2 separate regions of the Homo sapiens genome follow, and region 1 is linked to region 2. The links come from fine-mapping of genetic effects on gene expression. A gene starts in region 2. The other region holds a variant in brackets. All regions are shown on one strand. Distances are from middle to middle. Region 1 overlaps TET2-AS1 (TET2 antisense RNA 1). Region 2 holds the start of TET2 (tet methylcytosine dioxygenase 2).

Evidence for each region.
Region 1: its variant is fine-mapped to the expression of TET2 in blood mononuclear cells (TOPMed, PIP above 0.99). The same link has a PIP of 0.9 or more in whole blood.

The regions. Positions count from the first base shown.
Region 1 is chr4:105,292,126-105,295,035 of GRCh38, reverse strand. All of the region lies in intron 2 of TET2-AS1 (TET2 antisense RNA 1), which reads left to right. It also overlaps the pseudogene RN7SL89P. Among named protein-coding and RNA genes, the nearest start is that of TET2-AS1, 59 kb to the left of the region's middle. The variant G/A (reference allele first, on the strand shown) is at 1,526.
Region 2 is chr4:105,145,222-105,148,131 of GRCh38, reverse strand. It overlaps TET2 (tet methylcytosine dioxygenase 2), which reads right to left and starts at 1,256. Exons shown (of 11, transcript NM_001127208.3): 1 at 1,153-1,256. LOC124900868 reads left to right here. Exons shown (of 3, transcript XM_047416559.1): 2 at 1,171-2,637. The coding sequence ends at 1,859. RefSeq lists silencers at 282-351, 1,315-1,994 and enhancers at 682-731, 1,075-1,244.

The DNA of each region.
Region 1 (2,910 bases), 150 kb before region 2:
TCCTTGTATGCCTTGTGAATTTGTTAAAAACTGTTTAAAAATTGGGCATTTGGAAAAATAGCCATGTCTCCCAGTCTTTATGGACTGTCTCTGAGCAGGGGTAGTCCTTCTTTTATTAGCTGGGTGTTCTCTAGGCCTTGGGACCAGCCTGAATGGAAAACAAATTCTTCTCCAGTCTTTTCTGCATATGGGTCTATTCTGAGCCTTTGTGTGACTTTCTCAATTTTCCCCATATACAAGGTGGTTCTTGAATATTTTACATTTCCAAAGTCTCACCTTTAGCTTCTTAGGACCTTACATGGCCTATTGTAGGTCTCTACCCATAACCTTTTGCTCCAGGCATCTGCTGGTCTTAGTCTCTCTGTAGCTTTCATAAGCGGCACCCACTGCTTCTGTTTATTTGAGATGTAAGTTAGGCAAAACAGACTAGACCTTCAGGTAGCCCCCAGACAGGTTAGAACTTTGCAAATAAGGTCTTCTCTGCCCCTCTAGTTTATGGGAAGGAACTGGAAACTGGGAAGCTTCCTCTTCCAGACCAAGACTGCCTTGCCAGAGAGGTGGTAGGGCAAAGGTAAATAAAAACAGCGCATGATTTTTTTTTTATCATTTTGAATACAGCTTTTTCTTGATTTTTGCATTTGCTTGATTGCTATAGACCTGTGATTATTTTTCCAGAGCTTCTGTAGGGTTAATTTAGCCAGCAGTTTCTTCTTTTTTTTTCTGTTTTTTTTTTTTTTTCTTTTTTTAAAAGTGTTTCCATGGGGAAGTGAAGACTTGGAGCTTCCTAGTCTGCAATTTTGTTGACAGTACTCCTAAACTCAGATTTTATGACTTTCTTTTTCTGCTCCTGGATGCCATGCTGGAGGTTTTATGACATTTTGGGGGAGTTTATGAGTAGTTTGGGGGATACTGATGGAAATTGATATTTCTGAATGATCTCTCCACTGAAATTGCTCTTAGGTACTATTCCAAATTTCTGGATTTTGAAACTAACAGTAACTAGAAACTCCCACTAGAAGGCAAAGTAAAGAAGGCTTGGAGGGCTATATTTAGAGTTGAGAAAAATATCTTAAAAAAAAAAAAGAAAAGACAGGGTAGGGTCTTTCTCTGTTGCCCCAGCTGGAGTACAGTGATTACCCATGGACTCCATCCCCCTGCTAATCAGCACAGGAGTTTTGAACTGCTACAGTTCTGGCCTGGGCTAGTTTACCACTCCTTAGGCAACCTGATTGTCCCCTGCTCATGAGAGGTCACCATATTGATGCCAAATTAGTGCAAATACCTGATCAGCCTAGTGCACTACAGCCCACAACTGGACTCAAGCAATCCTCCTTCCTCAGCCTCCCCAGTAGCTGAGGCTACAGGCCTGAGCCTCAGTGAGAAAAATACTTTTCTCTCAATCTCATTTCCTCATTCTCTCAATGAGGAAATCATTGAGGGTACTACTCACAAGATCAATGTGTGTTGTTTATGAGATCTTGGGGGAGAAGATTTTTCTTTTTCTGATAGGTTTTAGAATACATAA[G/A]TATACTCTGAAAAGTAGACAGGATATTTATCATCTTCATTTGCCTCATGAGGAAATTGAAACTTAATTAACAGGAGTTTTAGCCAGGTTTTTTCTTCCTCTTTTTTCCCTTCCTGAAAATGGAGGATTCTTTTTTTTTTTTTTTTTTTTTTTTGGAGGGGGGAGGCTGTATTTTTTTTTCTAGTTTTTTTAAAAATTATTATTATACTTTAAGTTTTAGGGTATATGTGCACAATGTGCAGGTTAGTTATATATGTATACATGTGCCATGCTGGTGTGCTGCACCCATTAACTTGTCATTTAGCATTAGGTATATCTCCTAATGCTAACCCTCCCCCCTCCCCCCACCCCACAACAGTCCAAATGGAGGATTCTTATTTGCTGATGTGCCTCATGCATCTAGAATTGTGCCTGGAACATACAGAGTAGGCAGTTAATAAGTATTTGTAACATGAATGAATGGGAGGAGCTAGTTGTCCATAGTAGGAAAAGTGATGACTTTGTTATCTTTTTAAAACTTTATTTAGTGAACTTTATAATGAAGTCTAACCTATATCAGAAAAGAGTACCAATCATAAGTATAAAGGTCAGTGAGCCTTCATCAAGTGCATACACTCATGTAACCAGCTTCCAGATACAGAAAAAGAATATTATCAGCACTTTAAAATCAGAAATTCCTCTGTCTCAAGCCCTCTGCCGGTCACTACCCACTACCAACCCCCATCTTCTCTAAAGTGTAGCTACCCTGATTTTCAAAATACATGGATTTGCTTTGTCTATTTTGAACTTCATACGCACTAAATAATACACTATGTACTCTTGTGTATGGCTTCTTTTGCTAAATATTTATTAGATTCATCCATATTATTGAATGGGTATAGTTGAACTTTGTTACATTTTCAAACTTTATAAAAACATTTTACTTTGAAATTAATCAATGCCAAGTGAAACTCAGATTTATAGAAAATTAAACTCCAATAACTATCATTTTTGGAACACATAATGACAGAAACTATACCAAGGACTGACATACACGAGTGATCTCACTTAATTCTCTCAAGTTTCCTGAGGTGTAGGTGTTATAATCCTCATTTTACTGACAAACTCATAGAGAAGTTTACTAATTTGCTAATAAATAACAAGTTTGTAGTTGATGAAACCCTGTCTGGACCCAGGTCCCTCAGTCAACCATGCTTATGCTTTATTAATCACCACTCTATTTGTCTCTGTCACGTGAGACTCTTTTAAGAAATTTTTAATTGAATATGCATTTAGGTGAAGAATGGGGAAAAGTGAGGCTGGTATTAACTTAGAGACAGCTGTCTTCTATCCATGTGCACCACGTGATAGAACAGTTTGCCAGGGCCTCTTTGCTGTCATAAACT
Region 2 (2,910 bases):
AACTAGACAAGCAGTCCCAGTGAAAAGATTCAGCAAGATGCGAGTGAGGTGTGTGTGTGTGTGTGTGTGTGTATGTGTATGAGAGAGAGAGAAGAAAGAGTAGAGAGGAGACACAGAGAGAAAGGCAGAGAGATGAAAGACCAAAGAGAGAAGCCAAAGAGAAATTTGGATGGGACTGTTATAAATCTGCTCTTCACTTCTTTGCTGGGATTGGGTTTCATTTCTTTAGGCGCCCCTGACCTTGCAGTCTTGCAACTCCAACGCTGCGCTCCCCACCCCCTCCCGCCCCCTCCCCGGGCCTGCGCCTGCCTTTGTGTCTGCCTGTCACTTACCAAGGAACCAAACGAAGCTGATTCGGGAGAAGCACAAAGCCGGGACACAGATTTGTCCATAAATTCTCTTACATACATTCCCCAGGCTGGAAGGCTCAGCCCAGCGCTGACTTATGTACCTTGAGAAAAGTGAGTTCTGGTCTTGTTTGGGGAACCAGAGAAACTATTCTTTCCTCTTTCACTCAGCGCCGCTAACAAAACGCGCGGACTTAAGGAAAAAAAAAACCCACTCAGTGTACTCCAATTCCACTCCCTGTGACATTCACTTCGTACAGCCCCCTAAAGGGGGATAAGAAGGTAGGAGGAGGCAGACACAAACCCAGACCCAGACCCTACAGCTGATAAAAGGGTCGAAAAACACCCTATCAGTGTTCTCTCTGAGGTTGTTCAGGATAAACGGGAGACTCGTTTCACTTACACGAAAGAAACAGGGGAAGAGGATTAAAGGGAAAAGTAGTGCCCCCAAAGCTGAACTATTTTAGAAAGGAAAGCAAATTTAAAAATCACTTTTCTGAGGATTAAAAAAGGCCGGGAAACCGGCTCGTCGGAGGCACAAAGGTAAGTTTTCTGGGAGATGAGGGGACGAGCATTAGGAGGAGAGAAGAGAACACAGAACTACAGGTTTAAAAGGGGTAGAGGGAATTAAAACTATATTTGTCAGCCATGTTGAAGAGGCTCCAGTAATTTGTGAAGCTTCCCTCTTCCCTCTTGGTATTTGTGGGTGACACTACAGGGTTTGCTCCCCAGTCCCTGGAAGCCCGAGAAAAAGCGAAGGGGAGAAGAAAGGGAGAGTTTCGCGGCATAAGAGAAGCGCTCTGACCTCGTTCTCGTCCCTCAGCCTTGCAGCAATCCAGCAGTTGCAGTCGGGTCTCCTTTCTAACAAATCCTAAAGGGCAGCCATCTTGCTTCCTTCTGCTTCTCTACGAAAGCAGCCTAGCCTCCGCATCAATATTCATAAGGCAGTTTGACGTCTGTTCTCATCACTCAGCGGGGCCGGCGTCTCGGGGCGGCCGCGCCGAGGGGGCGGACGTGACTTGCATGCGAGCGGGACCCGGGCGCGCGGCGCTCGCGAGGAGGCGGCGGCGGCCGCCCAAGCTCTCGCCGCTGCCACTGCCGCTACCGCCGGCTCTCCTCCTCCGCCCGGGCCTCCTCCTGCTCCGCCCCGGCCTCCTCCCGCTCCGCCCCGGCCTGCGCCGCCGCCCTGGGGCCCTCAGCCCCGGCTCCCAGGGAATTAGCCCCCCGCACCGGGCGTCCAGCACAAAGGCCGGCGGCACCTGGGGCCGTACAGCGGGGCGCGCAGTGGAGACCTGGGCTGCCCTCACGCCGTGCAGTGGCGCGGGGGGAGTGGTGCGCCCGGACCAGCGCGGAGTAGGGGCCAGGGCTGGCGAGCGCGGGGAAGGGTGCAGCCCTCGGGAACCCCGGGGACCTCGGCGGGTCTCCACCCCTGGGAGAAGAAGCAGAGCAAGCGCGAAGGTTGGGGGCGAGGTGGGAGGTTGGGATGGCACGGGTGCCTGGACAAAGACGTGACATCTAAGATTTCCCTTTGAAACTTTTTGCTGGTCTGCACTCCACCACCACTTCGAGGTCCCGCGCACACGCCCCCGCGCGCACCCACCTCCTCCGGAGTGTACCCGCACGTGCCCTCGCTCTGGCCCCCGCCTCCACCCACTGGCACCTCTCCCCGCACCACACCTCCGCTTGCGCCCACCTTACCCTCAGAGGCCCGCGTCTCTATCTCCCTTTAGATCCCGTTGCCCGCGCTCTCCTTTCCCTTTTCTGTCGCTTTAATCTCATTCAGCAGAAGCGCTCCCCTGTTTCACCGAGGGCATGCCCTTAGTGCTTTAGGGGCCTGTATTTTTAAAGACCCGACAAACTGGGAAATTGACCGAGTTCTGTTTCTCCCCGCCCCGGCCCACCTTCTGTTTACTTTAGCCACGTGGGCTGAGTAGAAGGGGGCGTCTCACAGATTGAAATAGGTTTCTCACTAGTGACCCCCTACTTCTCGCTAGGAGGAAATAAACCTGCACTTTCAAATGCTTAAGTTGCCTCTCGTAAGAGCCCTTACTTTGAAGTAGTTTCCCCCCGTACAATTAAGTAATGAAGAAACCGACCGATACAGAGCTAATTCCGAATGACGGATGCTTGATTTTCCCTGACATTCGGAGCTCTGTAACTATGCTCTTCCTTTGACCGGAGTTTTTCTCTATTGCCGAGTAGTGTTACTTCCCCCTTCTAATGCTCCTTTTTCTAATCATCAACTTTTTATTTGAAGATGAGATGAAGAACAAAGCCCATATGAGTCATAGTAAGTATCATATTACGTCAGATAGTCGTTTTTGAAATATTCCCTTCATCTTTTACATGTTCTTACATGACTGACGTTCAAATTTTAAGTGGGTATTTTGGTCACATCTTTTATGGGATCACTGCATGGTGATCACAGTACCCTTAAGTCAATACTAGTTATATTGTGTAACCACACTTTTTTTGGTCTGTAATTTTTTTTAAAAGCGAAGCCCTAATTTTACGAAATCGGAATATTTCCTCTTTGAAGAGTGTGAAAAAGGGAACTCCTTGC